2 linked regions of the Homo sapiens genome follow. The protein of the gene in region 1 purifies or fractionates together with the protein of each later gene. This does not show direct contact. Each region holds a gene or a part of one and is shown on either strand. Other genes may lie near its edges. The genes, in order: ECE1 and SLC18A2.

Region 1 (3,813 bases):
CAAGACCCCATCTCCAAAAAATTTAAAAATTAGCCAGGTGTGGTGATACACACCTGTAGTCATAGCTACTTAGGAGGATGAGGTGAGACAATCACCTGAGCCCAGGAGGTGGAGGCTGCAGTGAGTTGTGATGGCCCCACTGCACTTCAGCCTGGGAATCAGAGCAAGACTCCATCTCAAAAAAAATTTTTTTAAAATCCCAACTTTGAGACTAAAGTAGACCGTAATTTACCAACCTTCTTAAACATGTGGAGCCTTTTTTATCCCAGAGGCACAATTGAATTTATGTTTTGATATAATCACATTCACACAATTCATTATCCAAAATATAAACCGTGAACCGGGAAAAGTCTCTTTCCCATTCTCATCCCAGCCACCCAGGGAGCGGCTGGATTCATGCCTGGCTGCTTGGCTTGTCTAGGATAAGCCTTTGCTCCATCCATGGGTCTCCAGCTCATGGGTCGGAAACCCCCGATGAAGACCAATCCTTTCCTTTGCTCTTGAGGCTCAGAGAGGTCAGGCGACTGCTCCAGGGTCACAGAGCAAGTCAGCGGCAGAACCAGAATTCACATCTGGGTCTCCCCGCCACCTCATCACCTCCCTGCCTGCTCTCCCTCCCCACAGCTCGGGGGCTGGAACATCACAGGTCCCTGGGCCAAGGACAACTTCCAGGACACCCTGCAGGTGGTCACCGCCCACTACCGCACCTCACCCTTCTTCTCTGTCTATGTCAGTGCCGATTCCAAGAACTCCAACAGCAACGTGATCCAGGTGAGCTAGCTTGAACCTGCAGCGGTCGAGGGGGCGGGCACGACCTCTTCCTGTTTTGAGTTTAGCAGGACCTGGGGTGGGAGAGGGGCTTGCCCTGGGTGGGACGGCGGTCTTCTAGTTTCTGAGCCTGGGTTATTTCCAGAGGCCCCACTGGTGAGATCTTTGCAGGCTGCTGGCCTTGCGTAGATGGGCACTGCATACAGGTGAAACTTTGGGTGCTGATGGGTTTCCGTGGGCCCCAAGAATGATGTCAACTCCTGGGCACAGCTGAACCCACATCCTGGTTTCCCCCTCCTTAGCGTCTGCTCTTTGTAACTCTTCTTGGAATGGGTTTGAATCCATCTCTCCCTGTCAGAGCATGCCCCAGACAGAGGCTCAGCCTGCCCAGGGGAGCTCCAGCACTGGTCTGCCCCAACCTCCAATGCAGAAGTGAGAAACCCAGGCTGGGGGTCCTAAAAGCTGAGTTCCCAGCCCATCTCTACCATTCAGTCACTGTGTGACCTTGGGCAAGTGCCTCAACCTCTCAGAGCTACAGTTACCTTATAAATCAAATGGATTGCAATAACACCTGTCCTAGGTATGCCAAGATGTGGCCATGGGTGCCAATAGTAGCAAGCAGAATTTGACCCTCCCCTCCTGCTTGGCAGGCACTTGACCAGCACTGTCTTCTTGAATCCCCATTCTAGCTCTGAAGGTTAGGTTTTATTTTCCCTATTTACCTGAGAAGAAACCTGAGAATCAGAAAGGTTCAGTAACTTGGCCAAGATCACACAGCTTTTGAGTGACTCTTAACCACCTGGAAAGCGTTGGGGAGATAGAGGCACTTTGCCGAGGCAAGTAGCTGTTTAAAAAGGAGGGTGGCTCTGTCCAGCCCTTCTGAGGAGCCCAGGAGCCCTGCGGGGGGGGGCCACGTGGACAGGCAGGAATGTGTCATCCCGTCCCTGAGTGGGCTTCTCAGTGACTGTAGCCAGCAGTCCTGCTTCTCCAAGGGCCTGAGCTGGGCCTCTGCTGCCATGTGCCAGCCATTCCCAGGGCAGGAGGCCGTGCAGTGGATACACGCATTGCAACACGAATTCCCTCTCATGCCTGCTTCTCTTGCCAGGTGGACCAGTCTGGCCTGGGCTTGCCCTCGAGAGACTATTACCTGAACAAAACTGAAAACGAGAAGGTAAGCGTGCCTCTCCCCTCCCAGCCTGCCTCCCAGCACGGTCCTTCCTGCTCCGTGTCCACACCCACACCTGTGCAGGTCTTTGAAGCTAGGGGAGCCCAGGGGTGTCAGTGACCTGATGGGTGAAACAGGCAGACCCTGGCAGGGGAGGGACACCCCTAGGCTGGCTGTGTCACTCAGGCATCATGGACACAAGGGGCAAGAGACAGGTATCATTTGTCCTGGTTCTAGAGAGAGGCAGAGGCAGCAATAACAGCTACCACAATTCGCCTGGCCCTTTATACATCACCTGTGACCCTCCCATTAACCCTGCAGATACTGAACTTCATTTGCCTCATCTGTCAAACAGGAATTAGTTTTGTCTTGCCTTTTACAGAAGAGGGTATCAGGCTCAGAGATGCTAAGTGATCTGCTCAAGGTCACATAGCCAGTAAATGACGAGCCTGAGATTCACATCCGGATCCACGTGCTCCGAAGCCCATGGCTCTCCCTCCCCCTGGCCTGCCTCTTGTGATGCCTCTTGGGGCGACCTCACCTGGAACTCATTCATCTGTCCTTTCATCCTTCCGCCGGCATGTACTTGACCAAGCGCCCACAGAGTGCCTGATGCTGGGGAGATGGTAGCAGACAAGACCACCATAGCCTTCGTCCCACAGGGCCTGTGGTTTGGTCGGCGAGGCGGATATTATTTAACTAAGAGAAAGTGAAGCTGAGAAAGTCTACCGTGGAGACCTAATTCAGATCTTGGAACACGGGTGGGGGGTGGTCAGAAAAGATGCATTCTAAGAATGGAAAGACAGCCCCAGGACAAGCCCTGGAAGACAGGGACCAGCCCAGGTGGGGACCTGTGAGACGAGCCAAGACTTTGGGCTTTCTCCTGGAGGCTGTAGGGAAGCAGCAGAGAGACACGGCCCCGAGATCATTCTCAATGCTGTGTCTCCCACGGGTGTCTTCTTCTTTTTTTTTTGAGACAAAGTCTCTCTCTGCCGCCCAGGCTAGAGTGCCATGGCGCACAATCTGGGCTCACTGCAACCTCCTCCTCCTGGGTTCAAGTGATTCTCCTGCCTCAGCCTCCTGAGTAGCTGGGATTATAGGCACCTCCCACTATGCTCAGCTAATTTTTGTATTTTTAGTAGAGACGGGGTTTCGCCATGTTGGCCAGGTTGGTCTCAAACTCCTGACCTTAGGTGATCCACCCACCTCAGCCTCCCAAAGTGCCAGGATTACAGGCGTGAGCCACCACACCTGGCCCCACGGGTGTCTTGGGGGCACTGTGCAGCCCCCTGGCTCCCTGTGCCGGACTTGGCTGGCCAAGCCCCCCACCAACTCTCGTCCAGTGGATAGTGGGGGGGCAGCCACTGACAGTTTGGGGTATGGGCCCTGCAGGTGCTGACCGGATATCTGAACTACATGGTCCAGCTGGGGAAGCTGCTGGGCGGCGGGGACGAGGAGGCCATCCGGCCCCAGATGCAGCAGATCTTGGACTTTGAGACGGCACTGGCCAACATCACCATCCCACAGGAGAAGCGCCGTGATGAGGAGCTCATCTACCACAAAGTGACGGCAGCCGAGCTGCAGGTAACTTGAGCGCCGGCTGCTAGGGAGGCTGGGATGGCCTCCAGGTTTCAGACAGGGCCCTGGACTGGGGGCTTTTATACTCATTTCATCTAGTCCTTGAAACTATGTGACAAAGGAAGGATGGTTGTTATGCCCAGTCCACAGATGGAAAAACTGATGCTCAGAAAGGTCAAGTTACCTGCTGAAGGGCACACAGCTAGTAAGTGACTCCAAAATAGGCGCCTGGCCGACACCAGGCTGCTTCTCTGTAATTAATAGTGTTTACTTGGAGGCTCGGGGTCATGACCACACCAGCT
Region 2 (3,813 bases), on another chromosome or scaffold:
GATGGGTTACCTGGAATACTGGCTGGACTGAACAGTGGGCACAGTATGGCTGGTGGTTTGGGGGCCACAGACAAGGGTTGCCACATTTTATTGAGTTTTGTCCTGAAACCACCCAGTGTTTCTGCCTACAGTCTGGGAAAGGGCCACAGATGTCTTATTTGCCTTCAGGGATGTCCCTGCAGCCTGAAGGGTTCCATATTAGAGCCTTATAAATAGCCAAAATGAAGAACTGGTGAAACAAGAGTGAAGCCCCTAATTCCAATAGCTTTGATACGTATTGGTACTTCAACAACTAGATTTTCCAAATATATATTGAACAGAGGGAGAAGCCTGTGTTTATTCCAGGACAGCCCGGAAGATTGTCATATGCCCGTTCTTTCATGGGACAAACTGTAGTTGCTGAAAATAAATTGCCTGTGAGTTCTCCTCTCTGAGCCTCCTGGACGTTTCCTGATTCAGTATCCTGCAGTGCCGTGTGAGCCCCCGGTGTTGGGTTTCTTTTGTCCACATGAATAAGGGGTACAGAGAATCAGCTCTGGGTGGGCTGAGACAGAAGAAGCTGTCACCCGATGGCCATCTGAACTGCAGGTCAGAATCCTGGCATCTTCTCTGGTTTACCCAATTTGCTTGGGGCCCCACTTTGTGAATTACAAGCTCATCTCTGTTCACAGCAGGGGAATCTTTGCATGGTTTGTGGGAGGGGACTGACTGTCTGGGAATCTGTCATGCTTGTGAGTTACTCTCTGTATTTTTGGTATTTGGTTTCTGGATACAGGTGAAGCAGTTAAAAAATATTTGAATATGGTCAAGAGAACTTTTGGAAAGATTCTATTTAAAGCTATATATGCCGTTTGGGTACTGGCGGAGGTGGTAAAATTTACAAGGAAAAGCCATGTGGGAATGGCCCAGGCGAAATTAGTCTGATGACATCTGATAAGTAATGACAGATATCATGCCTCAGTTTCCTCATCTGTAACATAGGGAGGTGAAATAGGGCCCTTATTAAATCATGACTAAATCTGGTGGGTGTAAATGCTTGGAGAACTGAGTGTAAACTTTAAATGAAGGCGCTATGATTATTTTTTATTTATTTATTTACTTTTGAGACAGAATCTCGCTCTGTCACCCAGGCTGGAGTGCAGTGGCATGATCTCAGCGCACTACATCCTCTGCCTTCTAGGTTTAAGCAATTCTCGTGCCTCAGCCTCCCAAGTAGTTGGGATTACAGGTGTGCACTACTATGCCTGACTCATTTTTTGTATTTTTTTTTTTTTTTTTTTTTTTTTTTTTAGTACAGACAGGGTTTTGCCATGTTGCCCAGGCTGGTCTTGAACTCCTGAGCTCAGGTGATCCGCCCACCTCGGCCTCCCAAAGTGCCAGGATTACAGGCATGAGCCATCATGCTCAGCCGATTACAATTTTTTATTAAAGCCTGGAATGGAAGAACCCTTCCAGGCTGTTGCCAGAGCTCAGGATGCTTGGCCCTTCTGCCTTCCTGGATTCATTTCATTCCTCTCCAGGTTCCTGAGGGTCCAGAGCTAGAGACAGAAGAGACTTAGAGATGTTTCAGGCTCTTCTGGGTTGGAGCAAACCTTCAATTGGGCAAGAGCTCAGCCACTGTTGGCTTCCTCTCAAGGCAGAGGGGCTGGGAAGCTGCCTGTACCCTCATGCCCCACCCACAGAGCAGGGACCCAGCTGTCTACTTAATCCAGCAGAAACAGAGGACAAAGAAGAAAGAGAATGAGGGAGGAGATGACATTTCTTAGGCACCTTCTATGCTCTAGGCACTGGTGTTAACAGTTTAACATCCATATCTCTTTCTGTACTCCAGTCCTGGGAGGTGGGCGGTGGTCTCTCCGAGGGACTGAGAGGAGACCTCCCTAGATTAAGTGGCAGGGTCATGTGTCCAGCCAGACATGGCATAGGGGAATGCCAGGGTCTTTCCACCAGCCCTGTTGACCTGGCGCCAGAGTCCTAGGTGAGCAGTGGTCTCACGGAGCAATTTGGATTTTGAAATTTTGCACAGAAAATGAGACTTTGTCTTTCTGGGTTGGCCTCATGGGGTCAACAGGAAGGCAGATCTTAACATCTTGCTTCCTAATGCCTCTTAGACATACTGCAGTCTGCCAGTGGAATCACTTGATGGCCTTTTACCCGAATCATTTGATTGCAGTGGCTCCTTTGGGAGAGCTTTAGCAAAGACTATAATTAAAGGAATCATTTTTTAAAAATGACAGAAATAGGGGCCGTGTATTTTGGATGTGTTCTGGGTTACTTGCCAATATTGTGTTAACATTTATTCCAAACAAATTTCTGTTCACAGTGGCAGTCCATAAATGTATTCACGTTCCAAGACAGTCAAACACAAAAAGGTCACATAGGAAGCACTGAGTATATGAATTTTCAGAAAAGTCCACCAAACACTTATCTGTCTGATCCCAAAGGGTAGCCAGGCGAAAATCAATATAAAGCCTTAAAAAAATAGCCTGCAGTCACCAGATTTGTCTGATGTTTGTGTTTTGCAGAATTGGCTATCCAATTCCCATATTTGCGGGATTCTGCATCATGTTTGTCTCAACAATTAGTAAGTGTGTGGTGTTTTCCTTCTGAGTGTGGGTCTCATCAGGGTGGGCATTGATGCCCATGAGCCGGGAATTAACAATACAACCTAAGGACGGCGGGGGGGCGGGGGGGGTCGTGGTTGGCTCATGCCTGTAATCCGAGCACTTTGGGAGGCTGAGGTGGGCGGATCATCTGAGGTCAGGAGTCCGAGACCAACCTGGCCAACATGGCAAAACCCCGTCTCTACTAAAAATACAAAAGGTAGCCAGGTGTGGTGGCATGCACCTATAGTCCCAGCTACTGGGGAGGCTGAGGCAGGAGAATCACTTGAACCTGGAAGACGGAGGTTGCAGTAAGCCGAGATTGCACCACTGCACTGCAGCCTGGGCGACAGAGCAAGACTCCATCTCAAAAAAAAGTATATGGCCTGGGAGGTTTGTGTATTGGCAACAATTGCAGAAAGGAATTGATAGCTTTTTACGGAACAAAAGCACAGGGTGGCTAACATGCAAATGCTCCACTGGGTTAAGGGGGGCTTCTGAAACGTTCCTGTTTGGGACGGTTGTGTCCCAGCAGCACTGATGTGCGGTCTTGGACCCCCTCTCTCGGCAGTGTTTGCCTTCTCCAGCAGCTATGCCTTCCTGCTGATTGCCAGGTCGCTGCAGGGCATCGGCTCGTCCTGCTCCTCTGTGGCTGGTAGGTGTGGAATGCCTGAGTGAGTTCGTGAGGGGCCCCTTGCAGAGTGAGCTGGACTCATTCAGGGAATTCAGGTATTGGTGGTGGTTGGGGTGCTGGGGATTCTTGGAGAAGGCACCCACTTTCCTCTTGGGTTCTGCTTGGTCTTACATTTTAGTGAATCTGACAGGTTTGGGAAGATCACAAGGCTGGCTGGAGAGGGAAGGCGAGTCACGCATTATTCTTTTGCTGTTCCCCGGAGCTGGCCTGTTGACTATTTCTTTCCCTGTGTAGGGATGGGCATGCTTGCCAGTGTCTACACAGATGATGAAGAGAGAGGCAACGTCATGGGAATCGCCTTGGGAGGCCTGGCCATGGGGGTCTTAGGTGGGTAAGGCCCCCGTGTAGGCAAACTGGCAAGAGGGGCCTGCCTGGTGCTGGACAGCGGCAGTCCTCGCCCAGTGACCCTGGCGCAGTTTGCACTGACACAGAGGTCCCCTTTTTATTTTTTTCCTTTCCTGCTTTCATGGAGACTTTGAAAAATGGTAGGAAGAGCCCTGAGCTGGGGGTGGAGGG

The links.
Region 2: the proteins of ECE1 (region 1) and SLC18A2 purify together in Homo sapiens (co-immunoprecipitation; one large-scale study listed by IntAct). This does not show direct contact.

Annotation. Positions count from the first base shown.
Region 1 is NC_000001.11:21,255,651-21,259,463, reverse strand, and holds part of ECE1 (endothelin-converting enzyme 1), read left to right. Parts: intron 1-624; coding exon 625-771; intron 772-1,873; coding exon 1,874-1,939; intron 1,940-3,325; coding exon 3,326-3,517; intron 3,518-3,813. UniProt on the Homo sapiens protein: Converts big endothelin-1 to endothelin-1.
Region 2 is NC_000010.11:117,250,874-117,254,686, forward strand, and holds part of SLC18A2 (synaptic vesicular amine transporter), read left to right. Parts: intron 1-2,525; coding exon 2,526-2,584; intron 2,585-3,174; coding exon 3,175-3,258; intron 3,259-3,531; coding exon 3,532-3,624; intron 3,625-3,813. UniProt on the Homo sapiens protein: Electrogenic antiporter that exchanges one cationic monoamine with two intravesicular protons across the membrane of secretory and synaptic vesicles.